Homo sapiens: one gene and its partners. The protein of the gene in region 3 purifies or fractionates together with the protein of the main gene of each other region. This does not show direct contact. Each region holds a gene or a part of one and is shown on either strand. Other genes may lie near its edges. The genes, in order: TPD52, RP2, MTX2, CEP120 and XXYLT1.

Region 1 (6,639 bases), on a different chromosome or scaffold from region 3:
AGTTTTCAAAGTAGGAGACAGGTTCTACAGTATCATTTTACAGTTTCCAACACATTGAAAACAAGTAGAAAATGATGAGTTGATTTTTATTAATGCATTACATCCTCAAGAGTTATCACCAACCCCTCAGTATAAAAAATTTTCAAGTTATATTAGTCATATAACTTGGTGTGCTTATTTTAAATAGTGCTAAATGGATTAAGTGAAGACAACAATGGTTCCCCTAATGTGATTGATATTGTCATTTTTACCAGCTTCTAGATCTAAACTTTCAGGCTTTTGAACTGAACATTGATGACAGTGTTCATAGTTCAACCTACTGAACATACAGTGTGCTTGATTCAGAATGTTATTTTGTAGAAATTAAAATTTTAACCTGGTGAAAAATAAGTTGATATAAGTGGTATAATAAACAATACACTGAAATGGTTACTGTCACAAACGGTGCTAAATAATGATATAGGAGGTTCCACTCTCAAGTCACCTAGAAGTTTGATTACATATTGTTACTTACAAAACTATAATAAATTGGATGCACAGCTGTTTACTTCAGTCTGGTGTCTTCAACCAAAATATGTACCTTATACCAAAACAATGCTTATTCCAAAATATTTTTTGTAGCTAGTAGTTCTTTCCTTGGAGGTAAAGAAAATACACCCAAACTTTTAATTACCAGGATTCAGAATATTTAAGAGAACAATTTTAGTTAAGAATCAAATATACAGAGATTCAAAGAGGGGAAAAAAAGGAAATATTATAGAAGACAAAGGTCAAACTGGCATTCCAGATCTGGAGCAATTTTGTAAAGCAGGAAAACAACTATGACAATCTGTAGCTTCTTAGATCATTATAGTGAATGTCCCCATTTACTATAAGTGTTTTTATAATGGTGTTTCCTAAATAAAGGAACATAAATGTACACTAAAGGGTGTTTCCCAAGAATAGAGGTGAAGATATTTTCATTTTGTTTAACCCACAAACTATTTGGTCAAAGGAATATGTAAAGCTAAATAAAAGCACATCTGGTAGAAATTCATGGCAATGCATGTTGACAAGATGTGCTTGGACCTCGCTTGCAGCATCTGGCAGTGGGTAGCAGAACAAAGGTAGGAATCTCACAGGCTCTCCTGTGTCTTTTCTGGAAGAGGCTCCGTGGTGGTGGCACTAGCATTTGCAGCCGAATTCAAGACTTCTCCAAAATCACCACCAGCAGGCTTGGTTCCCCCTACTTTAGACTTAAAAAAAAGTTCAAAAAAGGGAAAGACATTATGAAACATAAAACTAGCTGATTCTGCATAAAGTAACTCTAATTCACTTTCAAGAACAAATACATCAGCAACCTTATAGCTCAGTGATTATTATATATGTATGGAATTTAGTATTGTTGCAATGTTCAGTGTGGTTTTATAGTAAAACTCATGCATTCTCCCTTGCTGAAATATTCAGATTGGTAAATTCTACCCCTTCCCCTTTCCCCCTGCTCCTTGTTCTTCACAGGAAGTCTGTCTAGAAAACTTTGTAAGGTCTATTATTTTAAAGTACCTAGTGAACTGTCTGTCTCTACACTTGCATAACATTTTGTATTGCATCGAATTGCTCATTTAGCTACACTCATTCAAGAAATATTGAATACAACATGGGAAAGAAATATATGTTTTTTTCTCAGTTACAGTATAAGCTTTCTAACCCTTTAATACTTAAAGTGTGGTTCAAGGACCTACAGACTCAACATTACCTGGGAGCTTATTAGAAATGCAGGATCTCAGATATCCTTTCTACCCCACCCAACTCCAGCTACAGAATTGAAATCAACACTTGAACAAAATCCCTGAGTTGTTCATGTGCACATTATAGTTTGTGAAGCACTACTCCAACCTATCTGGCCTGAAATTTTGCCAATAAGCATTTATTTCAATATATCTGCCTTGCATTTGTATAATACTTTTTCAAAACCCTTACACATGTCACTTTATCCTTTTCAATGCTAATCTGTATATGCTCTCTCACTGTTACACTGTCCAACAGGACAGCTAACAGTAAGAAAACAGTCAGTGACCATGGATGCAAGAAGCTTATAGTGGGTTTGAACTTGACCTTGCTCTTAGCTCAATCTTAATTGAGTGGTCACAGACCCCTTATTTTCACTCTCATTCTTTTTGATCTACCATCCAAATTGTTTGGGAAATGCGAATAATGTGTGTTCATTGTTTATTAAATTTATTAAAACACATTCCTTAATTATAGTATCAAATCTCCTTGCAGTTCAACATGTCTAAAACTGAACTCCTTCCCCCGACAACTAGCCCCTTCTCTATTCTTTTTTAACACTTTATATGGCAATAGCACCTACCTAGCTGCCCCAGCCTGACACCTGGGGTTGTCCTGGATTCTTATCCAACTTGTTCTACATCCAATCAATCTTTTTTTTTTTCCGTGTCACTTCTCACTTCTAAATAGCTCTAGACTTGGTCCCATTGCACTAACTTAATTCACTCTCCATCATCTTTGGCTTGGAGTACAACTCCGTCCTTCCATCTAATCTGCCTGTCTCCAATCGTTCTCCCCTTTGATGTGCAGGGCAGCCACTGATCTCTCTAACATTTACAGAAGAATGCACCACTTGGGTTGTTTAAAACCCTTCAATGGCTTCCCATTGCCCCAAGTTCAAACTCTGCAATGTGGCCTACACATCTCTCTAGCTTCACCTCCTGCTCAATATCCTACAGCACAGTGAAGTTCTTGGTGGTCCTCAAAAGGGCCCTCAAACTTCAAACATTCCCTTCAACCTAAAATCCTCAATGGACATTACTGAGTCCTCTAAGAGGTCTTCTCTGACCTTCCCTTCCACCAAGCCAGGTGAACTTTCTGCCACTTGTCCTCATCACACCCTCAGCTTTTCACATCAGAACCCTTACCTCACTTTAGTTTCATTGGCCATTTAATTGTCTAGGCATCTTGCAGAAGGGGTCCATGTCTCTCTTGCTCACTGTGGTAACTCTGGTGCCTAATACTGATTGACTGGCACATGGCAAATGCTCAGTAATCACAGATGAATGAATCAACCCAAAATCTAAATGGACCTCATGTTTAATTAAATATAAATGTAATTTAACAAAATTATATCCCCAGCATGTAATTTTACAGCTTCCTTAGGATACTTGGGGTATCTGTTTAATACGCTATCCTTTTTTTTTTTTTTTTTTTTTTTTTTTGAGACAGGGTCTGGCTCTGTCACCCAGGCTGGAGTGCAGTGGCATAATCGCTGCTCACTCTGCCTCCCGGGCTCAAGCGATCTTCCTACCTCAGCCTCCCGAGTAGGTGGGACTACAGGTGTATGCCAACACATCAGCTAATTTTTCTATCGTTTTTGGTAGAGACAGGGTTTTGCCATGTTTCCCAGGCTGGTCTCAAATTCCTGGACTCAAGTGATCTGCCTGCCTTGGCCTCACAAAGTGCTGGAATTACAGGTGTAAGCCACTGCGCCCAGCCAACATATTGTATGTTTTTAAATTACACTTTTTAATCTGAATGGTGCCTAGTCATATTTTAAAGCAGACTTCATTACAATTTATAGAATCTAAATATATTCAGGAGAGTATATAGTGAATGACCTGGAAGTTTCTCCTCATGTCCAATGTCAAAAACACATAAGATTCCTGGTTTTCCAATTTGCCATTTCAAAAATTAACACTTGGGGCAGATTTCAAGGAAAGGCTATAACAGTCCTAACAATATTGAGAACTGAATTTTAGTAATCCTTGACTTCCTGCAACTACAGTTTGCTTTCAAATATATGACTTGGCACTAAGAAAAATAAAGCAGGTCTCTTGAAATGACATAGAAGAATGACTCTTATATATATTGTTACTCATCAGATGCATATTGAGCAATGTGCCAAGAACTGTTCTAAGCCTTTGAGAAGTATCAGTGACCAAAAAGAACAGGTCCCTGCATTTATGGCTCACAAAGCACCCTGCTAGTGAGGGCTGAATGAATAAGCTGTAGGACTGTGTGTGTACAGTGTAACTCCTCTTCTGAAAAAACATTCATATGTCTGCATACAAACAGAAAAGGTATGTACTAACGTTTGTATGTTCAAGAAAAAAAACGATCCAAACATCACACACCAAGGCGCCTGTCAGGGGGTGGGATGGTAGGGGAGGGATAGCATTAGGAGAAATACCTAATGTAGATGACAGGTTGATGGGTGCAGTAAACCACCGTGGCACGTGTATACCTATGTAACAAGCCTGCACATTCTGCACATGTATCCCAGAACTTAAAAGTATAATAAAAAAATAAATTAAAAAAAGATCCAGATCACTGTAGAGTGTTTTATTTCAATAAATGTACCCTGCTTTTAAAGATGCATTTCGTGACTCAAAGTTCTGAAAGACTAAACTGAATATTAGTTTTTAAACTGACTGATATAAAAACATTTAAGATACTAGTTTTAATCCTTAAAATATATCCCCTATAATTATCAGAGTTAGGAAGTAATGAAAATATGGGTTTTATACAAACTCCGTAGAGAGGGTCGAGGAATAGATGGGAACTAGACAACTTTTGAGGTTGCCTGTGATCCTAAGAGTTGATGATTTTATAGCTTTGAATATAATCTCAAAGATAATATAATTTACAAATCAATAAAGCTCATTATTATGGGGAAATGTTCACCTCCACTAAAATCAAAGAAATCAAAAAATAAAAACAGTGAATCATAAACGATCATCATGGCATCATTATAATAAAAAAAATGTCCAACAATTGAGGACTGAACAAATAATATCCATTATAAGGTAATACAGGCCAGGCATGGTGGCTCACACCTGTAATCCCAGCACTTTGGGAGGCCGAGGCGGGCGGATCACGAGGTCAGGAGATGGAGACCATTCTGGCTGACACAGTGAAACCCCATCTCTACTAAAAATACAAAAAATTAGCCGGGTGTGGTGGCACGCGCCTGTAGTCCCAGCTACTCGGGAGGCTGAGGCAGGAGAATCGCTTGAACCCAGGAAGTGGAGGTTGCAGTGAGCCAAGATCACGCCACTGCACTCCAGCCTGGGCAACAGAGTGAGACTCCATCTCAAAAAAAAAAAAAGTAATATACAAGCAGCCATTGCACATAATATTGAAAGAGAATACTTACTGATACAGGAAAATGATTATGATGTATGGCTACTTCTTTTTTAAAGCGTAACAGCATAATAGCACATACATCTATCACTGTCTGAGTGGTAGGACCAATTTTTTGTTTTCTTTCTTGTGCTTCCTATATTCTTGTTAATTGTTGACAAGAAAGTTATATTAAATTTTGTCCACCTACAAAGGTACTTGAAATGAATAAAGCAAAAAGCAGCACAAATTTCTAAAGTGCCATTTCTTTGTAAATTGTACATTTCCTTTCAGCATGTGGCATGCTGCCACACTACAGCATACACTAAAAAGATATTAAGTACATAACACCTTAAATGTCCACTAGTAACATAAGGAGTAAAGTTATTTACATTCTTTAGATATTTTTAGAAAGAAATATTAATGTCAATGATTTTCGCACAGCAAAGTTAATTAAGACACCAGGCAATGTATCAAAAAGACCCTGTTCATCTCTCTACTTGCCTTTAAGTTTTCGACCTTTTCTTCAAATGATTTAAAAGTTGGGGAGTTTCTATGGAGAGAAAAGAAAAACAAATAGTAAATACAAATACTGAAAAAAAATCCAACTAGTTTGAAAATATAATTGATTCCTCTTCAACATTATTCTCAATCGGCAAAAGAACAGATATAATCTGTACCATATATGTGCAGGTACATACAAGTATTTATAATGTAAGATTCTCAATTTCTGATCTAATATTTTAAGAGTATGCATTTGATTCCATGAACAGGGCCAGTCTCAGACATAAGTAATATAGATATGGTCAAGTACGTGTGTAAGGAGAGGTAACGAAGCCGGGTAAAATAGCAATTCTGTCACTTCCCCAACCAACTTGTCATGGTACAAGAAAATGCCACCATTAGATCAGTTTAATTTTGGTTAAGGTACTACGCTCTAAAATCCCTATTTTGATTCACATCTTCCCTGGCAGAATTTCTACATGAACACACATCACCTAAGTGGGACAAGCTTATGAGGTTCAATATCAGGGAGCAGCATAATAGACTGGGAAAGCAGGGACCAAAAAGAAGGGGGAGAAGCATAGAAACGGCTTTGCCTACTTCACAACTCTGTCCCAAAGGATGAGGAGAGCACGCTGAGCCCACAGGACATTCATTCATCCATGTTACATTCACATCTATCCATATTAATTAAGGAGGATCATAGCGCCTTTGTCTCTCACAAAGGCGCTTTGGAAACAGGGTTTCCAATGCTGTTATCCTATCCAACTGACCTTGAATATCCTTCCTACTACCAAGATGAAAAATGCAAAGAAAGGAAAAGGGGTTTCTTCCTTCCCACGGTGGTGATGGCAGAACAGTTAAGCCAACAGCTCTCAAAGTGTGGGCCCCAGACCAGCTGCTGCTGCAGCTATCAGGAAGTCATAAGCAATGCCAATTTTCAGGTCCCACCCCAACTCTACAGGATCAGAGGCTCTAGAGGTGGGGCCCAGCAAGCAGCGGTTTCACAAGCACTCCAAG
Region 2 (6,639 bases), on a different chromosome or scaffold from region 3:
GCTGGGATTACAGGCGTGAGCCACCGTGCCCGGCCTTTTTCTTTTTTTGAGATGGAGTTTCACTCTTGTCACCCAGGCTGGAGTGCAATGGCGCAATCTTGGCTCACTGCAACCTCCACCTCCCGGGTTCAAGTGATTCTCCTGCCTCAGCCTCCTGAGTAGCTGGGATTACAGGCGTGTGCAACCATGCCCAGCTAATGTTGTATTTTTAGTAGAGATGGGGTTTCACCATGTTAGCCGGGCTGGTCTTAAACTCCTGACCTTGGATGATCTGCCTGCCTTGGCCTCCCAAAGTGCTGGGATTACAGGTGTGAGCCACCGAGCCCGGCCCACATAATCTTTTAAACAGTATGCCTGGAAAATGTCACATTAATTTTTTTTATTTTACCTGACCTATCAAAATATGGTCACTAAAAGCCTATTTTTGTTTCTTCCATGTGACTTTCTTATCTACTTCAACTGTTTTAACTGTTTGTGACTATATAAACTTCATGCAAAACCATTCATGCACCATAGGCTCCCATATATACAATATGTAAAAATTTGATTTACAAAGCAAAATTTAATCATCTTAATGATTAGCAAATGAGCTTAAATTGACTTAGTAATTGCACAATAGATATTGTACTTAGCCAGTTTTACATGCTGTACTAGGAGGAACACTGGTCTGCAGTATGAGGCAATAAAAGAAGTACTCATTTTCCAGTCCCAATTTTGTCCCCTATAAGCAACCGGATCTTGAAAAAATCCCCTTAACTTTCTGGATGTTCAGTCACTCTACCAATATTTGAATACCCAGTATGAGCCAGACATTGTTTTAGGCACTAAAATGAATAGGACCAGCTCTTTCCATAAAAGTAAACATTCATCTAAACTAAAAACAACTTGACCATGTAATGAGAGATGCTGAGAATATTTTGGAGGGGACAGAGAAGGGACATCTGGGGCGGGGAAGAGAAGTGGGGCGGAAGTTCTGCAAAACATGAGAATGGATAAGCTAGAGCTCATTAGGTAAAAGGGGTAGGAATAAAGGACCCTCCCTTCCCATGCCAGGCAAAAGTAACAGACGGAACAAAGTAAAATTCTTCAGGGAGTAGGAGGAAAACTGAAAGTAGTTTGGTGTTACACATGCTATCAGAATGCTAGTAGATGAAGCTACAGAGGTAGGCAGAAACCGTATTATATAAAGCTTAGAAGTTATCCACAGACAAGAGGGAACCACAGAAAGATTTAAATAAGCAAAATTTACATGTCAGGATAATTACTCTGATGAGATAAGGACACATGCAACATGGATTGATCGGAGAGACTATTGTAGTCATACAGAAAGGGCTGGAACCAGAGCTGTAATTAGTAGGGAAGAAGAAGATGGGATGAATTTGAGAAATACTGAGGAAACAGAATCAGCAGACTGGTAATTCAATGGCTGTAGGAGGTAAGGCAGAAGGATGAATCACAGAGGAAAGGCCATGTGAGGACACAGCAAGAAGGCAGCTGTCTGTAAGCCAGGAAGAGAGCCCTCACCAGACACTGAATCTGCTAGCACCTTGATCTTGGACTTCCCAGGCTCTAGAGCTGTGAGAAATAAACTTCTGTTATTTAAGCCACCAGTCTGTGGTATTTTGTTATGGCAGCCTGTTTTAGTCTGCTCAGACTGCAAAAGCCAACCTCTTGCTATGTCATCACCAGACCTGTCCTCTGTGTGAAGGAGAGGGAGGGAGCAAGTGCAAGCTAACTGAATCTTCTTATAAGGACACTAATCCTATCAGATCAGCACTCTACCTTTATGACCTCACTTAACCTTAATTACTTCCTTAGAGGTCCCATCTCCAAATACAGCCATGTGTAGGGGGGTAGGGCTTCAACATATGAATTTGACAAACATTCAGTCCATAACAGCTGCCAATGCTGAGGAGTTAAATGTAATTTACTACCCTAAGTATTTTCTCTGGACGCTCCACTTTTCCTAGCTCATAGGGAGAAATTAATCTGATAGCTAAAGATTTTATAGCTAAATAGTTCTGTAGTATAAAATTAGTTGGATTGTCAGCACGGCCTTCCAAGGAGAAATTTAAGATTTATGTTGCTGTACTTTCTCAACAATTCCTGAAAGTTTTTCAAAACAAAAAGCATTAGGAGCTAGACACAGTGGCTCACATCTGTAATCCCAGCTACTTGAGAGTGGGCCAGTGGCCTAGTGAGACTAGGAGTTTGAGACTGGCCTGGGTGACACAGTGACACTCCCCTAGCTCTAAAAAAGTTTTTTAAAACTTAGCAGATTATTTGAAGTGAGTTGGTGGAAGGGGGGTAAAAAAACACAAAAACCCTTAGCTGGGCATGGTGGTGTGCGCCTGTAGTCCTAGCTACTCAGAAGGCTGAGGCAGGAGGACTGCTTGTGCCTGGGAGTTCAAGGCTGCAGTGAGCCATGATCATGCCACTGCACTCCAGCCTGGGTGACAAAGCAAGACCCTGACACTTTAAAAAAAAAAAAGTAATAATAAACAACTGAAACTGAAATCCTTCGTAATTTTGCAGGTTACTAGTTCTGAAATAAAGTGTCTAGAATCACAAACATGGAAAGGTCATGTTTTAAATTATTTTTTCCTAAGAGCCACTTATGAAGTGAGTTTAGTTTAGACTGTATTTTTTTTTTCTGACACAGGGTCTCACTCTGTTGCCCAGGTTGGAGTGCAGTGGCACACTCACAGCTCACTGCAGCCTCGACCTCCACCGTTCAAGCAATCCTCCCCGCCTCAGTCTCCTGAGTAGCTGGGACTACAAGTGCACACCACCATGCACAACTAATTTTTGTATTTTCTGTAGAGATGGGGTTTCGCCATGTTGTCCAGGCTGGTCTCGAACTCCTGGACTCAAGCGATCCACCCACCTCAGCCTCCCAAAGTGCTGGAATTACAGGCATGCGCCACCGTGTCTGGCCTAGACTATTTCTTACTACAATCCTTAAAAGGTAATGGATATACTTTAAAAAATCAAGGAAAGTGGCCAGGCGTGGTGGCTCACGCCTGTAATCCCAGCACATTGGGAGGCCGAGGCGGGTGGATCACCTGAGGTCAGGAGTTCCAGACCAGCCTGGCCAACATGGTGAAACCCCGTCTCTACTAAAAATACAAAACTTAGCTGGGCATGGTGGTGGGCGCCTGTAATTCCAGCTACTTGGGAGGCTGAGGCAGGAGAATCGCTTGAACCCAGGAGGCAGAGTTGCAGTGAGCCGAGATCGCACCACTGCACTGCAGCGTGGAAGACAAGAGCCAAATTCTGTCTCAAAAAAAAAAAAAAAAATCAAAGAAAAATTTCAAGAGTTGTAATTCGTCTGATATCAATTTAATGTCCTACAGCTATTAAACCAAGTTAAGCATTATTTTCCTAACAGAAAACAAAAATGAACATCTTATTATCTTACTAAGCGGCAATACAAATTTTTCATTAAAATTCATCTCCACAGTTAAATTTCCATAATGATAATGTGAGATAAAATAATGGGATTTGTTAATTCCAATGAAAATCCAGTCTGAATAGAAGTAAAAAGATTCAGGAGTATAAGAAGCACTATATATGTACCAGGCACCATACTAAGTGCTCTATAATCATTCACTCAATCCATAAAAACCCCATAAGGGTTGTGTACTATAATTATCTCTGTTTTATACTTGAGAAAATTGAGGCACACAGAGACTATATAACTTGTCCAAGGACACACTGTGAGTCCATATATATATATATATATATATATATATGTATATACACATATATGAGTCCATATATATGTATATACGCATATATATGCGTGTATATATATACACACACATATATACACATATATACACACATATATACACATATACACATATATGTGTGTATATATATACACACACACATGTGTGTATGTACACACACACATGTGTGTATATACACACACACATATGTGTGTATATACACACACACATATATGTGTGTATATATACACACACACATATATATAGTGTGATCGATATAGATATATATATGTAAAGAGAGATATGCCTGTTTATGAACTCTCTATTCCATTGATTTGTGCATCTAGTAAGCAATTGTTTTGTATATGTATGTATATATATACACACATATATATGGTGTATGTGTATATACATACATACATACATACATATACATATAGTGCAGTGAACCGAGATCGCGCCACTGTACTCCAACCTGGCGACACAGCAAGACTCCGTCTCAGAAAAAGAAAAAAAATTCCTAGATGTGAAACCAAAAACACAATCCACAAAAGAAAAAGTGAGTGGAAATTGGACTTTTACTCAAATTGAAAATGTTTGCTCTTCAAAAGACACTCTTAAGAGAAGGCAAGTTATTAACTGGGAAAAAAGTATTTGCAAAACATATATATAACAGGGGACTTGTATCCAGGACATATAAAGAGCTCTGAAAAACTCAATAATAAGAAAACAAATAACCCAATAAAAAAATGGGCAAATGATTTGAATAAACATTTTACCAAAGATATATGGATGGCAAATAAGTACATGAAAAATGCTCAACATTTAGGTAAATACAAGTCATTTGGGAAATGCAAGTTAAACTACAATGAAACATCACTACACACCTATTAGAATGGCTAAACATTTTTTTTTAAAGCTAGGCGAGGTGCAGTAGCTCACAGCTGTAATGCCAGCACTTTGGGAGGCCAAGGTGGGACGATCGCTTGAAGCCAGGAGTTTCAGACCAGCCTGAGCAACACAGCCAGACCTTGTCTCTACAAAAAATAAAAATATTAGCCGAGTGTGGTGGCAGACACATGTAGTGTAGTCCTAGCTACTTGGGAGGCTGAAGTGGGAAGATTGCTGGAGCCCAGGCAGTCCAGGCTGCAGTGAGCCATGATCATGCCACTGTACTCCAACCTGGGAGACTGAGCAGACCCTGTCTCTTAAAAACAAATTAACCTGACAATACCAAGCAAGTGATGTGAGGATGCAGAGCAACTGTATCTCTCATATACTGCTGGTAGGCAAAATGGCATAGCCACTTTGAAAAATAGTTTGGCAGTTTCTTTTTTAAATTTTTAATTAATTTTTTTTTTATAGAGACAGGGTCTTGCTCTGTTGCCCACACTGGAGTGCAGTGGTGCAATCAGAGCTCACTGCAGCTTCAAACTCCTGGGCTCAAGCAATCCTCCTGTCTCAGCCTCCCAAGTAGCTGGGACTACAGGCATATGCCACTCTGCCTGGCTATGTTTATCCATTTTGTAGAGGTGGGGTCTCACTATGTTGCCCAAGCGGGTCTTGAACTCCTGGCCTCAAGCGATCCTTCTGCCTTCACCTCCCAAAGTGCTGTGATTACAGGTGTGAGCCACTGACCTGGCAGTTTTTTGTAAAGTTTAATAAACAATTTCCATATGATCAGCAATCCCACTCATGAGTATTTACCCAAGTGAAATGAAAACTTATGTTCACTCAAAAACCTGTACACAAATATTTATGGTAGCTTTATTCATAATTACCAAAATTGGAAACAACCCAAATGTCCTTTAACTGATGAATGGATAAACAAACTGTGATATATCCATACAACGGAATACCACTCAGCAATTAAAAAGGAACTCCCGGCTGGGTGTGGTGGTTCATGCCTGTAATTCCAGCACTTTGGGAGGCCAAGGTGGGCGGATCACCTGAGCTCAGGAGTGCAAGACCAGCCTGGGCAACGTGTTGAAACCCCATCTCTACCAAAAAGATACAAAAAATTAGCTGAGTATGGTGGCACTCGCCTGTTGTCTCCACTACTTGGGAGGCTGAGATGGGAGATCACTTGAGCCCCGGAGGCTGAGGCTGCAGTGCGCCAAGATTGTGCCACTGCATTCCAGCCTGGGTGACACAGTGAGACCCCATCTCAAAAAAAAAAACTCTTGATACATGCAACAACATGGATAAATCTTAAATGCATTATGGTTAAGTGAAAGAAGCCAGACTCAAAAGGTTACGTATTGTATGATTCCATGTATATGACATTCTCAAAAAGACAAAACTATAGGGATAGAAAACTTATCAGGAGCTGGGAGTGGGGCTGACTACAAAGGAGCAAACTGACTATACAAAGGAAGAACTTTTGGGGGCGATGGAACCATTTTATATCTTGATTGGTGATAGCTCCACAACTGTATTTATTTGTCAAAACTCATAGAACCGTACACTTAACAAGGGTAAATTTTACTGTATATAAATTACACTTCAATTAAAACAAATACTTAAAGTTTAAACATTGTTAAGTCAGCTTCAGGGCTAGATAGCTATGTAGCTGAGAGGTTATTTCACAAATGAAAACATTAGTGCCACATAATTATAGAACTAATAGTGCTGAAATATAAATTCTTAATCTCAATGACTTTGAAACATAATAAGAAAATGAACAGGACAAATAGTTTCTCTCAATAATAATATAAAACTTATGATCTTAGTCAATATACACACCTCCCAGAAGACAGATCCACTATCTTTGCTATTAAATTGTGTTCTGGGCATGCAAAGCTAAAGGGTAGCCTCTGTGACACTATGGTTTGAGTTTTCCTGTGACTTAACCCAAGTGACACCTACATCATCATTGCTACTGTCAATACTGTCAGTAGGCTTT
Region 3 (6,639 bases):
ATTTGGAGTATTTTTTGTGCTGATAAGATATTGAAAGTCAAAGCGGAAGGTGACAGTGAGCCTCTCCAGTGTTTTCTTCCATCTTTCAAGAGAAAGGGGAAATACTGTTTGAGTCAAACCTTGCTATTGTTTTAGGGTGTTTACATTATTGAAGATAGTCATGGTGATGTTTTGGCTTTGCTTTTTTTTTTTTTTTTGCGTGATCATAGCTTACCTTTAATTATTGGACTCAAGCTATCCTACCATAGCTTCCTCGAGTAGCTGGTGCTATAGGTGCCTGCCACCACATGCTGCTAATTTTTTTGTTTGTTTTGTTTTGTTTTTTGTTTTTTGAGATGGAGTCTTGCTCTGTCACCTAGGCTGGAGTGCAGTGGTGCGACCTCAGCTCACTGCAACCTCTGCCTCCCGGGTTCAAGTGATTCTCCTGCCTCACCCTTCTGAGTAGCTGGGACTACAGGCACACACCACCACGCCCGGCTAATTTTTGTATTGTTAGTAGAGTCAGGGTTTCACCATGTTGGCCAGGCTGGTCTCAAACTCCTGAGCTTGTGATCCACCTGCCTTGGCCTCCCAAAGTGCTGCGATTATAGGCATGAGCCAAAAATTTTTAAAAATTTTTGTAGAGAGAAGCTCTCACTATGTTTCCCAGGCTGGTCGTGAACTCTTGGCCTCAAGCAATGCTCCCTCCTCGGCCTCTGGAAGCACTGGGACTGGCCTGTTTTTGCATTTTTAAAGTTTGGATGAAAATGCTTTGTGACATCAAACTTTTTTGTGAACTACAGATTAATTGACTAACTAGAATTATGCTATCAGTTGAGGTCTGTAGTAAGTTGAGTGTCATTTAATTGGTAAAATTGTCAGTTAGTTTTTATAAAAAAATAAAAAGCATGGGACTAAGAAGCATGGGTTTTGGGAGTTGAAGGTTGCATTGAGCTGAGATTGTGCCACTGCACTCCAGCCTGGGCGACAGAGTGAAATTGTGTCTCAAAAAAAAAAGAAGCATAGGTTTGATTGCAGAACATTACAATTCTGCTTTTATTTTAAGTGAAATACAGCATTTTGGAATATTAATTAGCATAGTTACCACTACGCATGTAGTTTAGCAAAATATACTATATTTACTATTTTATACAATATTATTATTAACAGTTGAATATTATTCAGGCCTTTGAGAAGATATATTAAACAGTTATTTCAAACTCTTTTTTGTTCTACTGAAGGCCTCAATCCCTTCTTAGTTTTTCATTCTCAGCAAAAGATTTCTCCTTCTATTTCGTAAAATATGAGCACTCACATTCTTGTTCTTTCTTATCAACTTTCAGTCATCATCACTGATTCCCCACCACCTCTTGCATTACAGTGGAAAAAGTGTCCTGTTCTGACAAAAACAGATCTCTCCAGCTAAGGTCTTACTTCCTCCCTTTTTACTTATTCTTTTTTTTTTTTTTTTTGAGACAGGGTCTTGTTGTATTGCCCAGGCTGGAGTGCAGTGGTGTGATCATGGCTTACTGCAGCCTTGACCTCCCAGGTTCAAGCAATCTTCCCACCTCAGCCTCTTGAGTAGCTGAGACTAAAGGTGTGCACCACCATGCCCAGCTAATTCTTTAAACTCTTTTGTAGGAATGGGTTCTCCCTATGTTTTCTAAGCTGGTCTTGAACTCCTGGCCTCAAGTGGTCCTTTTGCCTTGGCCTCCTCAAAAGTGCTGAGATTACAGGTGTGAGCCACTGCTTCTGGCCACATGGATCTTGTATATCAGTTATTTCACTTGTTTTATGTAATTTCAGCCTATCTCCATTATTTTTTTTCTCTTTGTGTTTTAATAAGCTCCACTCTTCTTCATATGTAATAGAAGGGAGGCAACTCTTCTCCTCCCTTCTTCCTTGTTTTCAGATCCAGGCTTTTTGAAAGAACTGTTTATATTCATTTTCTCTAATTCTTTCCATGCAAGCCATGCTTTGACATGATTTTGATGCATGCTGAAGTTTGAGAATCACCACCCTACCCTATCTTTGTGGGTCAGTCAGGAAGCTCACTATTATTGCTATGAATTGGAATCACTGGTTATAGGTTTTAAAGGACCGTTAGTTTCCACTTAAATAGACACAGAAGAATCAACTTCTGGTGGGGCAGGATGGTGTTTAAACTTAGAAATCATAACTGTAGGTGAATTAATTAAGATTGGATTTGGCAGTGAGTGACAGAAACCCAATATAGTGGTAGCTTAAAAAGGTAGTTCACTTCTCGGACAAACACGGGTAATCCAGGTTTGGTGACTACATGATTATCAAGAACCTGGGCCCCTTTACTCTTGTTGCTCTACCATTTCTAACACTCAGCTGCTACTTCATGGTTCTGTTTGGCTGCTATAGCTATAGCCATCCTTTTTACATTCTAGTCAACAGGGAGGAAAAAGAGGAGATACTTTCTCCTTTTAAAGAAACTTCCCAGCAGTTGTCCAGAACTTTTAGTCCAGTTGGCCATACCCAGTTGTAAGGGAGCCCGGAAAATAAGTTTTTATTTTAGGCAGCCTTGTGTGCAGATAGTTTCTACCACTGTAGGGAAAGGAGAGAACATATGTGGCAGGGATAACAGCCTCTACCAGGATAAGCTCTTGGGAGCTTTGAATGGCTCAATCAGTAAACAATATTGCTTATTATAAGTAGTGCACTATGAAAGATGAATTGTGGGAAAATGAGGGAGATTGGGGGAAGGAGAACAGAATTGAAAAAAAAAATTAAAAATCTCCCCCTTGCTTTTCTAAGAGATGCCATTTACTTGAGGAGATCAGACATGCATACATAAGTTACAGAGCAATGTAAGAATCAGAGGATGCAATTAGTGGGGGAATCAGACTCACGTGGGATTTATTTTTGGAGGCAGGCATCTCTAAAGGACTGGAGTTTTGAGAAAACAGAAGAGAATTGACATACTTTTGGGTAAATGGAGTTCTTTGTACAAGATATTAATCACTGTTTTGTACCCTTAACACTTAAGAGTCTTAACACTTATTTCTAATGTAGAGTTGAGGAAGGAATTATAATAAACCTATGAGAAATCTCTGTTGAGTAAAATGATAAATAATATCCTTGTTAATTTATTAATTTATCTTATCTTACTTTTGACAGCTATTTATAGTACTTTCAATTTCAAAATAGACAAAAGGTTTGTCTTCCAATTTGTATGTGGTAATTAGAACCATTGTAACTTATGACCTCCCCAATTGAATAACTGAATTATTTTATAGAAATAACATAGTAAATTTTGTGAATAGAGAAAAAGAAGCCAAGAAGTCATAGAAGAGAGAACAAGGGGAGTGGACTTTGAGTATTGTAAAAAACAGTGGGTTTGGCAGAGTTCACTGGTGTCTTAAAAACATTTAAAAATGAATTAGTGTGATCTAGTAATAGAGTTTTGCATTTTTTTACTTAATATTATAATGTGTACATTTTTTCTTGATGTAAAATTTTTTCTAAAGCATGAGTTTTAAAATTGATTGTGTATAGCATTCCATAGTTTGGATTTACTATAATGATTTACCCCATACCCTTATTATTAGACATTTAAATTGCTTATAACATTTTTGTAACTATGAGCAAAGATAAACAATTTAAGTCTTTAAAAAGTGAATTCGTGAGCACAGAAACTACATGTTGGAATATAGGGTATTACTGGAGAGAACTTTGAGGTAGCAGAGATAGTATTTTGAGTTTTCCTCTAAAATGAGGAAGATGATGATCCTATAGAAAATAGTGGAATGAAGCAATTAATAGCTTATAAAATTTGGACTTTAGTCATCTACTTAAGAAAATTAAAGCTATATATATAGTATTGCTGGTTTACATAAACTAATACAGTAACATAAATGTGGATAATTTACATTTTATTCCTTAGGTATACATACATACTTTAAGTTTCATGTATTTACTGATGTCTAAATCATACTGATTTTTAAGTAGTGACATGACATTTTTGTTTGGAAAACAAATCCTTCACTTTAAATTGGTTCATTGTTTTCTATTAGAGTTTTGTAGTATGAAACTATTCAGTTTAGAAAAGAAATGCATACAAATTTCTGTTCAAATATGCATATGCTTTTTACTGGGCTTATTGTATGTATCTTGATTTACAGGCCTTTTTGCAAATGTGTAACTTGCCTATCAAAGTAGTTTGTAGGGCAAATGCAGAATATATGTCTCCATCTGGTAAGTGTGTTTTTTTTTCTTCTCTGTTAATATTATGGAGTGATAAAATTATAGTGATAGTCCAGTTTGTATCTACATGTTAAAATGCCTGATTTTTTTTGTTTACCCTTTGAAGAATCTTTCCATGGTTTTAGAAAGTAACAATTGCAAATTTGACAATCTTGGGGTTGGCATATCTATTCATTTCAACTGTGATCAGAGATGGTTACTGACGTGTGGAAATGGTTTTAATAGTAAGGGAATTGTTTTAAATAGTAAATGTTAAGGAAATACATGATCTCAGATTTCCCTAGTCTTAATGTACATAAGACTTTCCTGTTGAGAAAACAAATTTTAGTAATAATGAATCCATTTATTATTCCACACATCTTTCTTAATTATATTCTCCCATAATACAGCTGGAAGAAGAGAGATTGTAGAAAAATTAATTTGTCGTTAGATCTTGAAGTCATCACTGAATGTTTTTGGTTTCTAATTATTTTTTCTAATGCTTAATTTTAACAGGTTTTGAGATGCTTTAGCTTCCTATTTTTTAAAATCAGTATTATCTTTATGTCAGTAGATTAAATTACTGTTTTAAATAAATAATTCAAAATTTTTAATATAAAAATGTGCTACAAAGCTGATAAATAAATGTTATATATAATTATCATGGATGATTATTGTAATTATGGTTTTGTTGGAGCAATAATACGTAGAATTACTCCTTTTTGAATAAATTATTAAGTATAACTGATTGGTATAAGTGTGTAACATTGCTTTTTAGGGAGACATTTTTCATTTTGATATGATAATTTAGGAGTGACTTGTGTTAAATTTTTTTTTTCCACCTTAAGTTTTTAAGGGTGGTAGAAATTGTTAAAAGGTATGAAGACACCCCTTCTGTACATAATGTTCTTTTATATAAATACCTGGTTTTAGAGGTTTATGAATATACATTTAGAAAACATTTCCATAAAATAATTTCTAGGCTTGTAAATGTAAACATATTTTAGATTCTTGGAGGGCATTCATTGACTCATTTTTGTGTTGGTTTTATACGTAGATTTTAGGAACTACAGAGTTCTGGTGAAATAAGTTATGTTGTGTTTTGTCCATCCTTTTCCTCTATGTAGTCATACAAACAGTTTGTATATTTATGTAAAAAGGTTAGAAGGTTAGTAATCTAATGCTAAAGTTCAGATCTTTGGCAAGTGAGATATCAATATAGTTTATCTACCTGTTTCCTAAAATTACTATACTTAGTGTCATTTAGGTAGATACCTATTTTCTTTTTATTAGATTGCGCGAAAGACAAACATAAATATTCTAGAGACATACAAAAATATACATTCTTTCATAGGAGTCTCCTATAGGTAGATGAAAATGGCACTTTCTACTAAGATATTTAAACTTTATCATATCTCAGATTGGTATTCTCTTTCATTTAATGATTTGAGGTGATAGGGAAATGTTTTTTATTGTATTTGCTTCTTTGATCTTGCGGTAGATTTTTAAAGCAGAGAGCATGGACTAGTCAGAAGACCAGTTGACTTAAACTCTTATTTCCTAAAGAGTTAGGAAATCTTTAACTAATCCTTCTGTGACTTTGTCACATATTAACTATTTCCTTGAGAAATTTCACTTCTCTGAGCCTCAGTGACTTCATCTGTAATATAAGGTAGCCGGATTAGATGACATCCAAGGTCCTATTTCTTGCATTCTTTGAATCTGCCAACTTGTTTGGCAACATATTCTTGCTTTCTTTAGAATAAAAATTTTAAAAGTGATTATTCTGTCTAAGACGGTAAACAAAGCCCTCAGTTTTCTTATATGACCTTTGATTCGCACCAGAAAATAACTGTCTTACTGTGTTTTTGCCTGATACCTGCAATAATAAGGATATAACATTGGCTCCATTTTCATTAAGCAGGCTAGTGACAGAAAACATTATTCACTTCTAATTTGTTGTGTTTGTTTTTATATATCTCTTTATATTTAGAGATATATAAGATTAATACTCAGTTGACTATCCACACTTCTTTTTGCTTCAGAATTGACAACGCTCAATGTATTTTTAAGAAAAGAAAAAAAATACAAACCCTTTTTTCCAAGAACCTGAAACTGGTCATTAAAAACAAGGAATATGCTTTGCTCTAAAAATATTATACCCCCAAATACTGTTTGTCTAGGTACTAAATAGTTTTCATTCTCAGATCATTTGATCTCAGGGGACCTGTAATAATTCTGGTAGTATAGTAGTTACAAAGATTTTATCCCGAGTTAAGAAAACAATGTGGCCTAATGCTTAACCAGATAAAAAAATTTTTTTTTGCAAGATTTATAAAGCAGTAGAAGGAAGGAATGCAGAATTGGCAACAGGGAAATATCTTCTCAATACATCTATTGAGTTGTTGTGTTCCAAAAGGCCTGCCTTTTCTTTGTAATGCATGTTGT
Region 4 (6,145 bases), on a different chromosome or scaffold from region 3:
AAAAAAATTCCCTACTATTATGGAGTTGAGTTGTATCTCTATTTGTAGAAAGTGAAATTCTTTACATATGCCTAGTTCAAAGGGCATATGCATGTTAAGGTTTTGTATGGATATCTTCAAGTTATGTTTGTTATAATCTCATTTGGGGATAAGAAAAGGAGAGTAGATGCTGACCTGCGATTTGGGTATTTCCAATAGAATACTGTTGATCAAACTGTCTTGAAACTGGAGCAGTAATAATAATACTTAGTATATTTTGTTTGTTTGAGACAAGGTCTCACTCTGTCGCCCAGGCTGGAGTGCAGTGGTGTGATCACAACTCACTGCAGCCTCGACCTCCTGGGCTCAATGGATCTGCCCACCTCAGCCTCTCGAGTAGCTGGGACTATAGGCCATGCCACCACACCCGGCTAAATTTTGTATATATATATTGTTTTTAGAGACGACATTTCATTATGTTTTCCAGGCTGGTCTCAAACTCCCTCACTCTCTTAACCACTTCTTGGATGGCATGATATATTGCCCCTTACTGTCCTGGTCACATGCCATTGGAAGCTCTCTAGGTAGCTGATTTCCCTTAAAGTGTGTTGCACAGTGGTAAGAACACCCCAGAGGTGATTTACCAGTACTGAATACTGAACACTACTTCCATGAACGTCCCTAACTGCACTGACTCTTCGGTAGCCAAATCACACCATTATTAGAGGCCACGTAAGTTCTCCTAGGCTTCTTCACATGAACTGTTTTATATCTTATCTATCACTTAAGTGATTTTTCTTATAGCTTATACAGAGGACTCTGCTTTTGTCTCTAATATATTTAATCTTGTTGGTTTCAGTTCTCTCAGAATCCTAATTTATTAAGACATTAGTAAGATTCAATTGTATATGATCTACAAATTTGATAGGCAACATGGATATCTTTAACCCACCAAAACAGTGCTTAGCAAACAGCAGGAGCTAAATATATATTTGCTAAACTAGAACCAAGAAAGTGCTATATTTTGGAAGGCAAGGATATTATAATTCATTAATTTGTAATATCTTCCAAGTCTACAACATGGTAGATACCAAATAAATATTTCCTGAATAAATGAGAATAAAAGTACCACAGATTGAATGCTGTTAAGCACGGTCCTTAAAGCTGACCTTTTGCAACTGGTATTTCTTCAATTATCTTTTAAATATAGTTATTTAATTCAGCTAGGAACCCACTTAATATAGTGACCACATTTTTCTCCACTTCATACATGGAGATATAATAAGATACTGTTTTAAATGTAATGTGTAGGCTCTGAACTGTGTCCCTGTCAAATTCAGATGTTGAACCCTTAACCTCTAATGTGATGGTATTTGGAAATGGACCTTTGGGAGACAATCAGGTTTAGATGAGGTCATGAGGGTGAACTCTCATCATGGGATTAGTGCTCTCCTAAGAAGAGACACCAGAGAGAGGACACAGTGAGAAGGTGGGTCTCTAAAACCAACCACACTGGCACCGTGATCTTTGACTTCTAGCCTCTAGTACTGTGAGAAAATAAACTTCTGTTTAATCTACCCAGTCTGTGGTATTTTTTTTTAACCAGTCCAAGTTAACTAAAACTGCACTTTGCTCAAAGAAAAATATACTAGACCCTTGATAAACTAAGCTAAGAAGTCTTCCCCCAAAACCACCCTCCAAAAAGACTAGAATTCATTTTTATGCTGCTTCCTAGTGATTACTTTTCTAACATGAAACACTTGAAGTTGTGATTCAGATGAACGCAGCACTACAGAGAAGCCCAGTGTAGCACAGTAGTTAAAATGCAATCTCTGGAATCGGATCTGAACTCTGGCTCCATGATTTACTAGCTACATGATCTTGAATAATGTTTAAGCTCTGTCTTTAATCTTCAATCTCTTCATCTTGAAAATGGTGAAAATATCTTCCTCACAAAGTAGCTTTGAAGATTTAAAAAAAAAGGGCCGGGCAATATAAGACATTTAAAACAGCTCCTGGCACAAAGTAAGAGCTCATTAAGAGCTATTGTTACAGATATTAATAATATAACAAAATTTGAAATTTCTTATACTTTATATAAGTGAAGACTCAGTTTAATAGTAGCAATAATCCTGATATCATCACACAAAAATAAATTTTAAAGTAGTAATGCTATAAATGGAAACACAAGAGCTGAATGGACTTGCCATAGCTGTATTCACAGGAAAAAAAAAGTTTAATAGTCTTTGGCATAGACTTTTTTTCTTTCTTTTTAGATTTGACACAAGGTCTCACTCTGTCACTCAGGCTGGAGTGCAGTGTGGCATGATCACAGCTCACTGCAGCCTGGAACTCCTGGGCTCAAACGATCCTCCCACCATCCTCTCAAAGTGCTAGGATTACAGGCATGCGCCACAGTACCCAGCTGGCATAGATTTTCTATTGTATATGTCTGCTACATTTTATATATTTTTATATATGATCTACTTTATCCTTGGGAGACCTCAAGTTGTACCTTCCCTGAACCAAACTTTGGCTTTTGAAAGAAACACTTTTAGTTATTATACCTGTTCAATTCATTTCTTATATCCAACAATTCTTGTCGCTCGGTTTTTACTGTATCTTTTTCCTCAGCGGCAAGGTAACGTAGTCTCATCTGTTCCAATTCTTCCTGCTGTTTTTTAAGACGAGCCATTTGACTTTCTTGCTCCCTCTTGAAAGAAACAAAGAAACAAGTCATATCCTTAATATTAGGAACAAATATTTTATATGACTTTGACTTGTGATTATAATCCTATTTGACAACACCCATGATATAGCCACACACTGCCAATTCTTTTTTTTTTTAACAGAGTCTCACTGTGTTGCCCAGGCTGGAGTGCACTGGCTAGTCACAGGAGCAACGAAGCACACTACAGCCACAGACTACTAGGTTCAAGCAATCCTCCTGCTTCGGCCTCTGGGCCCAAGTAGGAGTATCTGGGCCCAAGGTGTGTGCCCACCCTTGCACTGCTAATTTTATGAGTTATATATTAACCAGAAATACCCAGCTAGGTTTTCTCTAAACACTCTATTCTCTTTTACTATAAGTCATAATCCTTCAATCAGTGATTGATATTAGCTGACTATCACAGGACAACGGAAGTTGAAGGCAAGAAAGAGGGTGCTATCAATACAATGAACTGTCAATACAATGAACAGCCAAAAGGCTAGTGGTAAGAGCAGCATCTGAGAAAAACATTATACAAAGATGTACCTAGAAAAATTCAATAACTGTCCCTATACAAATCACTAATTCCACTCCTACTTCAGTAAATATGCCTTTCCACTCTGTTCTCCAGACTCATACAAAAACCTATGCACATATATTCTTAAACAAAAATGAAAACAAACAATACATTCTAGTTTGCATTTTTAAAAAAGTTTAACAATTCTTCAGGTCAATAGATAAAGTCTTTTAAAATAAATGAGTAACATTCCACATAATGGATATTCCATGACTTATTCAACCACTTTCTCAATAACAGACACTTTTGCTACTACAAACAATGCTGTAATAGGACACCTTGTCATCTATCACACAGTTAGCTCAGGAATCCTTACGTCATTTTCTTTTGTTTAGGACAGAATCCCAAAGTGGGAGACCTGAGTCAATAGGTTTTTGTTAACTATTTTTTTAAAGTATTTATTGAATTGTAACAAACAGAAAACTGCCAAATGACAAGGTACATTTTGATATACTTTCACAAAGTAGACCACTCACATACCCACCATCCAGATCAGACTGCCAGAATCCCAGAAGTCTGTGTCTCCTCCCAGTCACTAACCATTCACCTTTTCCCAACAATAACTACTACCCTAATTTTAAAAACAAAAATAAGTTTTGAACTTAACACAGAATCTATACAGTATGTATTTGTGTCAGGGTTCTTTCATTTAACATTGTTTTTGAGACTCATTGTTCTCTGTAGTTAATCATTTACATTATTATACAGCATTCCATTGAATGAATATACAATTTATTCATTCCACTGCTGAAGGACATTGGGCAGTTTCCAGTTTTGAATTATAAATAATGGTGATGTGAAGATTTTATACATGTCTTTTGGAACACATTTGTATGCATTCCTACTGGATATATACATAGGCTTCAAATTGCGTGGTCAGAGGATATAAGAATTACAACAGCATTAGTAAATAGAGGTTTTAGTATCCTTTATCTGAAATGCTTGGGGCCATAAGTGTTTTGATTTTGAAATATTTGCATATACATAATGAGATATCTTGGGGATGGGACCATCTAAACATGAAATTCATTTATGTTTCACATATACCTTGTATACACAGCCTGAAAGTAATTTTACATAACGTTTTACACAATGTTTTAAATAATTCTGTGTGAACTGTCACATAGGGTCAGGTGTAGATTTTTCCACTTGTGGTGTCCTGTCAGGGCTCAAAAAGTTCAGATTTTGAAGCATTTCCGATTAGGGATGTTCAACCTGTATTTCCAAACAGTTTGCAAAGTAGTCTTATCAATTCATACTTCCACTTGAGCATTCCAATGCTTTATATTCTTGCCAACACTTCATAATGTCATTTTTTTTCATTTTAGCCATTTGACAGGTTACATAGTAGTATCTCATTGTGATTTTATTTTGCACTATTCAAAGACCAGTGAGGTTGAACACGTTTCAATAGTTTTAATGACATTTAGGTATCTTTGTTCATAAAGTTCCTATTTAAGCTTTTGGTACTTTACTTGGTTGTCCATCTTCTGTTATTGATGTTTATAAATACTGGATAAGCCCTTCATCAATTATATAAATTACAACTATTTCCCAGTAGTCTTCGGCCTGTCTTTTTACTCCATTAATGTTTTTTAATAAAGAGAAGTCCTTAATTTTAACATAGTTCAGATTTTTCTGTTTATTCCTTTTTGGTTAACCGTGCTCTTTCCTATTTAAGACATTTTTTTTGCCTGTCTCAATCTTGAAGATATTCTTTTATGTTACCCTTTTGAAGTTTCACTTTTTGCCCATGTAGAGCTCAAACTGACCTAGCAACATTTATTGAAAAACACCTCTTCTCTTGTTGCTTGGCAGTTATCACCTGTCACATATCACCTCTGTCCATATATGTATGTTTTTGTTTCTGGATGCTCTAAACTGATCTATTTATCCTTACATTAACACTACACTGTTTTAATTACTGTAACTCTTGTAACAATGTCTCAATATACGACAGTTCTTCTACATTTGCTTATTCTTCAAAATGATTTTAGCTATTCTTGGCTCTTACATTTTCACATAAATTTCCATTTCTAAGGCTAAAAAAAACCTGCTGAGATTTTATGATGATTATATTGAATCCACAGATCAATTTGGCCAAAACCAGTGTCTTTAAAATACTGATTTTTCAATCAATGGAATGGTTTACCTAATTATGTAGGTCTTTTGATAATAGTTTATAGTTCTCTATATGCTAAGACTAACATATTTCTTTGATTATATTTTAGATGGTAGAGCTTTACAATTTTCACTTCCTAATTGCCTCTAGTAGACAAATAACATTGATTTTTACACACTGACTTTGTTTCCAGCAAACTTGCTAAACTCACTTATTCCTAATAGGTCAATGTAGATACTTTTTAGCTCTCTAAATACATCTGTGTTATCTGCAAATAAGGGTAGTTTTATTTTTTCCTTTCCAAATGATACAGTATTTCTTTTTCTTGCCCTATTACACTGGCTAGAACACCTCTAATACAATGTTGAAAAGAAACGGTAATAGAGGGAAGGTTTCTCTCATTTCTGATCTCAGAAGAAAGTTCCATTATTTTAAGAATGTTTTTTGTAGGCTTTATGTAAAAACTCTTTATTAGATTAACAAATTTCCTGTCTAGTCTTAGTTTGTTAATGAATATGACTTTTTCTGCAGCTATTGATATGATTTTTTTCTCCTTTAATCTTTGAATGTGGTAAATAACCAAGCTTGCATTTGTTTAGTAAATAAACTTCGTTGTGATGCTTACAAGTTTAATATCTTAAACTTGTATCTTTAATGTTTTAAAAGACTGGCCAATTAATTTTGTCCTTGTAAGCTTTTAGGATCAAGGTTATGCTAGTCTCATTAAAAAAAAAGTAAGCATTTTTCACTTCCCATT
Region 5 (5,327 bases), on a different chromosome or scaffold from region 3:
GCCCTGCTGTGCTGGTGCCCTGTGAGGTCCTGTGGACACAAGAGACTGCACGGGCCACACCCCCAGCTGGGTGAGTCCTCTCCCTCCTGGGTACTCTGGACAGTAAAGAAAGATGGACACGTGGGCTCCGTGGAGCATGAGGTAGTCCAGGACCTCGGCGGCCACAGGTCCTGCCTCCCTGCTTCTCGTGCCCTCCCTCCCTTTGGGTCTCTGCTCCACCTCGGTAAACGCTTCGTTCCCACCCCTCGAAGGGTAAATCGAGCTCCTTGGTGGTAAAGCACCCACTGCCCCTAGTCAGAGGGTCCCTCCTCTCTGATGTCATGGTGCCCTGGTCTGCCTGGTAGAATTTTAGCTGCTTTATAACCTGGTCCTGAAATGAACCACTGGGAAGAAATAGGGTAAAATGAACACACAGCTGCCACACTGCATCCCAACCCTGTGTGACCCTATCACCGCAGACTTTTGTGGCAAGATGACAGCATCTCAGTTTGCTTGAGAAGCTTATTTTTGCCAAGGCTGTTACCACCAGGCAGGCACCAGAGCTCGGTTCCACTCACAGCAGAACACAAGCAGTGGCCCTGTGGATTCCCCTGTAAGAATGTCCGGAGGGAATGCTTCCCCCTCGCCAGGATCAGACTCTTGGCACTCTCTGTGATACGTGAGACCTTGAGGAAGGTTCCTCCGTTCCCAGAAGCGGAGCAATGTGCTGGTGCTGAGAAGTGGCCCCTCAGGGCCACCCTGGGCAGGGTCTCCGGTTTTATTCCCCCGTACCTTCTGCTTCATCACGCAGATCCTATCCTGGGTTTGGGTGGGGAAGTCTCTCTGCGGGGGCCGGTGGGGCAGCATCTCCAGGCTGGGAGGCAGAGCTGGTTCTGCCACGATGTGTCCTCCCCGTGAGGACCCACTCCCACGCCTGTCCCTGCCACAGTGGGCCTCCTGATGGTCCTCCTTCCTCCAGGTCACCGGCACGATTGCTGTGGCCCCTCCTCTGTGGGTGTGGGCTTGGACGCCTCTCCCCTCCACCTGCACACCCCTTGCAGCACACATGAGGCTTAGCTATTAAAGAGGCTGGAGGACAGTGCAGCGCTTTAACCCTGGCCCTCACAGGGAGGTGTCTAGGTCTTTCTTCTCCCCTCCAGATGGAAGCATTTGGGTAGAGGACCTAGAAGAGGCTAACACTCCCTGAACTATGAACCTAGATTGGTTTCTAAATCTGCTGAGAGAAAAATTGAACTTGAAGTGACATTCCTTCTAAAGTAGACATCATCCTACATGGCTCTTCTACAGCTGTCTTTCACCCTAACCCATGGTGTGCCCTGGGCTGTCGCAGGCCCCCAGCCCCTGCCCAGCCTTTCTGAAGTGCCAGGCTTGGGGCTCAATGAATGAGCCTTGTTCTAAAGCAGAAAACAGTTCTGTTCCAGTCAGGGTTCAGCTGCCTGCGTCTTGATGAGATCTCTGTTCAGGATTGTGTCCCCTGCTTCTCTCTCCCTTCTCCTTTTCAAGATCACAGGTGAAGACAAGGGGGTGGAAAGTTCTACCTAGATTGCTGCTATCTTAAGAATGTGGACTTTGGAGCCAGATTGTCTGGGTTTAGTCCCTGCGTCTGCTGCTTACTAGGTGTGTGACTTTGGGCAAATACCTTGACCTCTCTGTGCGTCCGTTTTCTTGGCTGTGAAATGATGTATCATCTCAGAGCACCCATCCCCTGGGGTTGTGTGGGGAGTAAGTAAGCCGGTCTAGTATGGCGCCTGGTACATCCTCAGTCAATAATATCAATGTTGGCTGTGGTGAGGACGTAGCAGAGGATGGTAGAAAGAATCTGAGGCTTGGGGTCCAGAGCCCTGGGTTCAGGTCCCAGCTCTGCCACTTGCTGGTGTAGTGATGCGGATTCTGCACCCCGGAATGTGGCAGTGTTTGCATGCAGGCTGGCTGTGAAGACCCAGGGCAGCAGGCCGGCAGGCTGGTTCCCCTGCACACCGGACTAACTCTGTCCTCTCTCTCCACAGGCACACATTCTGGCAGTTCCGCCATGAGAACCCCCAGACCCGGGTTGGGGGCCCGCCCCCCGAGGGGCTGCCGGGCTTCAACAGCGGGGTGATGTTGCTGAACCTGGAGGCCATGCGCCAGTCCCCGCTCTACAGCCGCCTGCTGGAGCCGGCGCAGGTGCAGCAGCTGGCCGACAAGTACCACTTCCGCGGCCACCTCGGGGACCAGGACTTCTTCACCATGATCGGCATGGAGCACCCCAAGCTCTTCCATGTGCTGGACTGTACCTGGAACCGGCAGCTGTGCACCTGGTGGAGGGACCATGGCTACAGTGACGTCTTCGAGGCCTATTTCAGGTGTGAGGGCCACGTCAAGATCTACCACGGGAACTGCAACACTCCCATCCCGGAGGACTAGGCGCTCCCCGTGCCTTGCCCCCGGGGCCTCCAGATCTGGGGGAAGGACAGGGTTCCTTGGGACAGACCCAAGGGCAGTGTCTGACCCGCTAGAGAGACACCGCAGGGAAGTCCTGTGATTAAGGTGCTGAGACCTCCTGCCGGGCAGGTCACTGTGCTGAGGCCACCCGCCAAGGACTGGCCTGTGCACTGCTGGTGCTTGGGACCTTATTCCTCCAGGGAGCAGGCGACACAAAGGACACGCATGTCCAGTGGGCTGGGAAGCAAGCACTTGAAGAGAAGGAAGGGGAGAAAGGGTCCCCCTTGCTGTCTGCCTCTGAGGAATGGAAATCCTTTAGACCCGGCCTTTTTTGGACCAATATAAATTTAATTTAAATTGACAGCCTTCCATTTTTCGAGAAAGTACAAACAGAACTGCTTTAGCACCCATCGAGCCCCAAACGGGTAAGGTAAGCCAAGGTTTTAATGACCAGCCCAGTATCTAAGCTTCCAAACGAATGCCAGCCCATCACATACTCACCCTGGGAGGCTGCTGCACGCGCATTCTCCTGATGCTCACGTCACTTGGTGTAGGTTTCAGGATCGCCTCTTTGAGGAAGGACTTCAGGACCAACTGGGGCCTGCATAAGAAAACTTATCTCATTATTAGAGTACTCACAGCTTGTATCTCCCAGCTACATCCTAGAACCCCATTGTCCTTTATTCCACCAAACCAGCTCCAGGTGACCAGACTCTACTCAGAAAGCAAATTCGTCATCAAAGAACAGAGACTGGCCACCACAAGGACATGCAGGAGAACTGTCGGGACCAGGAAGACTCATTCCAAAAAGCCCAGGCCGGGCACAGTCGTCAAGCCTGTAATCCCAACACTTTGGGAGACCGAGGTGGGGGTATCGATTGAGCCTCGGAGGTCGAGATCAGCCTGGGAAACACAGGGAGGCCCCCATCGCTACAAAATATTTTAAAAATTAGCCAGGTGTGGTGGCTTGTGCTTGTTGTCCCGGCTACTTGGGAGGCTGAAGTGGGAGGGTGGCTTGAGTCCAGGAGTTCACTGCACTGAGCTGTGATCACACCACTGCACTCCAGCCTGGACGACAGAGTGAGACGTCCATCTCAAAAAAAAAAAAAAAACCAAAAAGGAACCCAGCAATTCCCAAGTGTGACCATGTGGGCTTGGAAGACATGTCACTCATGGGCTAGTAAGCATTCTAGTTTCTTTGTTTAAAAAATCCCCTTATCATACCACGTTAGACCGTAGACCTTAGCAGAAATTAAAGCGTCATTTCTTTTGATGGGGCCTCCTGTACGTAGGCTGCAGACGTGAAAGCCCCAGGGGTCCATTTGTATCAATTTTCATCTTGTTTTGTTTTGATTTCATTTACGTTTTTCTTTTTCCCATGAGTGAGGATAGCCAATAAATCATCTTTGAGAACATGGTGATTCATGTTGTTTGTTCTCTGATCACAGTTTCAGCTGCATGAAGGCTCTGAATCAAGTGTGTACTCAATGCCATTGGAATCCCCACCTCCCCTGATGAAGATGAGTGCTTACAGGAGATCCTAAGGACCAAGGAGAGGGCACATCTGAGAGGGTGTCAGAGAGGGTAGTATTGGCATGTTTGGTTCAAAGCAAGGAATCATTTCATTCTAGGTATTGGCAGGTCCACCTGCACTGGGGAGCAAAAGCATCCCCATTTCTTCTCATCCCTCTTACCCTAGACTGCCCAGTTACATCCTGCCCTGAAGAGGTGGAGCAGATATCTTTCCCAGCCCTCTGCTGTGACAGAATTGGTCTGTTCTCTCACCTACTTGATTTCCTATTTATAGGTAACAATTCTTGAATGCCTGCTGTGCACCAGCCATTGTATTGGGGGATTTATTACGCTATTGATAATGTTTATGAAAACTTCATGAAGGTCATTATGTCTAAAGTCGACTGTAAGAAAATGTGAGAGATGTGGACAGAGTCATATACTATATGTTTATCACATTTTTTATAGTAGAAGAAAATTGGAAGCAACTTAAAATGTGAAAAAGAGGGGCCAGGCGCGGTGGCTCACACATGTAATCCCAGCACTTTCAGAGGCTGAGGCCGGCAGATCTCTTGAGCCCAGGAGTTCAAGACCAGCCTGGGCAACATGGCAAGGCCCAGTGTCTACAACTATACAAAAATTAGCTGGGCATGGTGGTGCACGCCCAGCTATTCAGGAGGCTGAGCTGGGAGGATCACTCAAACCCAGGAGGCAGAGGCTGCAGTGAGCTGAGATCACGACACTACACTCCAGCCTGGGGGACCGGGCAAGACTCTGTCTGTCTTTAAAAAAAAAAAAAAAAAAAAAAAAAAAAGAATGGAATAGGTAGATGAATAATATGCTTCATCCATATAACAGAATACTTGAGGCATTATTCGAAGAATATGTAATGCCTCAGGAAATACTTAGAATGTGCTATTAAATAAAGAATGCAAAATGTAAGATCATATGTTTAATACGATCCTATTTTTAAAATTACATATATGTGTATGTATATCAGTGTACACACGTGTGTATAGATACATACCTACACACACACGTATGTATAAAAAGAGCATCTATTCTGCTGTATTTCAACTTCTAAAAACATAGGTGTTTCAAACACCACATTAAAAAAACAATTATTTCAACGGGAAAAAAGTGAGTTAAAGGCTAAAGAATTTTAGACTCACAATAATAAAGGTATTTTCCCTGCAATCCTTTCTATAATTAAAATGTGTCTATAGCTATGTGTGTATTTTGTTGTTGCAAGAAAAAAACAATAAGCTGGTTGGTCAAAATGGGCAAAGGCCAAACAACATCCCTCATTTACTTTTAAGTAAACCTCTCAGGAGCTTCCCCTCTGTCACCAGTGGCCTCGACCTTCCAACCCCCCAGTGCACAGCAGACTGTCA

The links.
Region 1: the proteins of MTX2 (region 3) and TPD52 purify together in Homo sapiens (affinity purification with mass spectrometry, with the first as the bait; one large-scale study listed by BioGRID). This does not show direct contact.
Region 2: the proteins of MTX2 (region 3) and RP2 purify together in Homo sapiens (co-immunoprecipitation; one large-scale study listed by IntAct). This does not show direct contact.
Region 4: the proteins of MTX2 (region 3) and CEP120 purify together in Homo sapiens (affinity purification with mass spectrometry; one large-scale study listed by BioGRID and IntAct). This does not show direct contact.
Region 5: the proteins of MTX2 (region 3) and XXYLT1 purify together in Homo sapiens (co-immunoprecipitation; one large-scale study listed by IntAct). This does not show direct contact.

Annotation. Positions count from the first base shown.
Region 1 is NC_000008.11:80,037,001-80,043,639, forward strand, and holds part of TPD52 (tumor protein D52), read right to left. Parts: intron 5,669-6,639; coding exon 5,620-5,668; intron 1,236-5,619; coding exon 1,116-1,235; 3' UTR 1-1,115. Other genes in the region: TPD52-MRPS28 protein, read right to left, coding at 5,620-5,668.
Region 2 is NC_000023.11:46,845,046-46,851,684, reverse strand, and holds part of RP2 (protein XRP2), read right to left. Parts: intron 1-6,639. UniProt on the Homo sapiens protein: Acts as a GTPase-activating protein (GAP) involved in trafficking between the Golgi and the ciliary membrane.
Region 3 is NC_000002.12:176,319,262-176,325,900, forward strand, and holds part of MTX2 (metaxin-2), read left to right. Parts: intron 1-4,130; coding exon 4,131-4,203; intron 4,204-6,639. UniProt on the Homo sapiens protein: Involved in transport of proteins into the mitochondrion.
Region 4 is NC_000005.10:123,347,398-123,353,542, forward strand, and holds part of CEP120 (centrosomal protein of 120 kDa), read right to left. Parts: intron 2,693-6,145; coding exon 2,547-2,692; intron 1-2,546. UniProt on the Homo sapiens protein: Plays a role in the microtubule-dependent coupling of the nucleus and the centrosome.
Region 5 is NC_000003.12:195,066,791-195,072,117, reverse strand, and holds the end of XXYLT1 (xyloside xylosyltransferase 1), read left to right. Parts: intron 1-2,006; coding exon 2,007-2,403; 3' UTR 2,404-3,834; downstream 3,835-5,327. UniProt on the Homo sapiens protein: Alpha-1,3-xylosyltransferase, which elongates the O-linked xylose-glucose disaccharide attached to EGF-like repeats in the extracellular domain of target proteins by catalyzing the addition of the second xylose.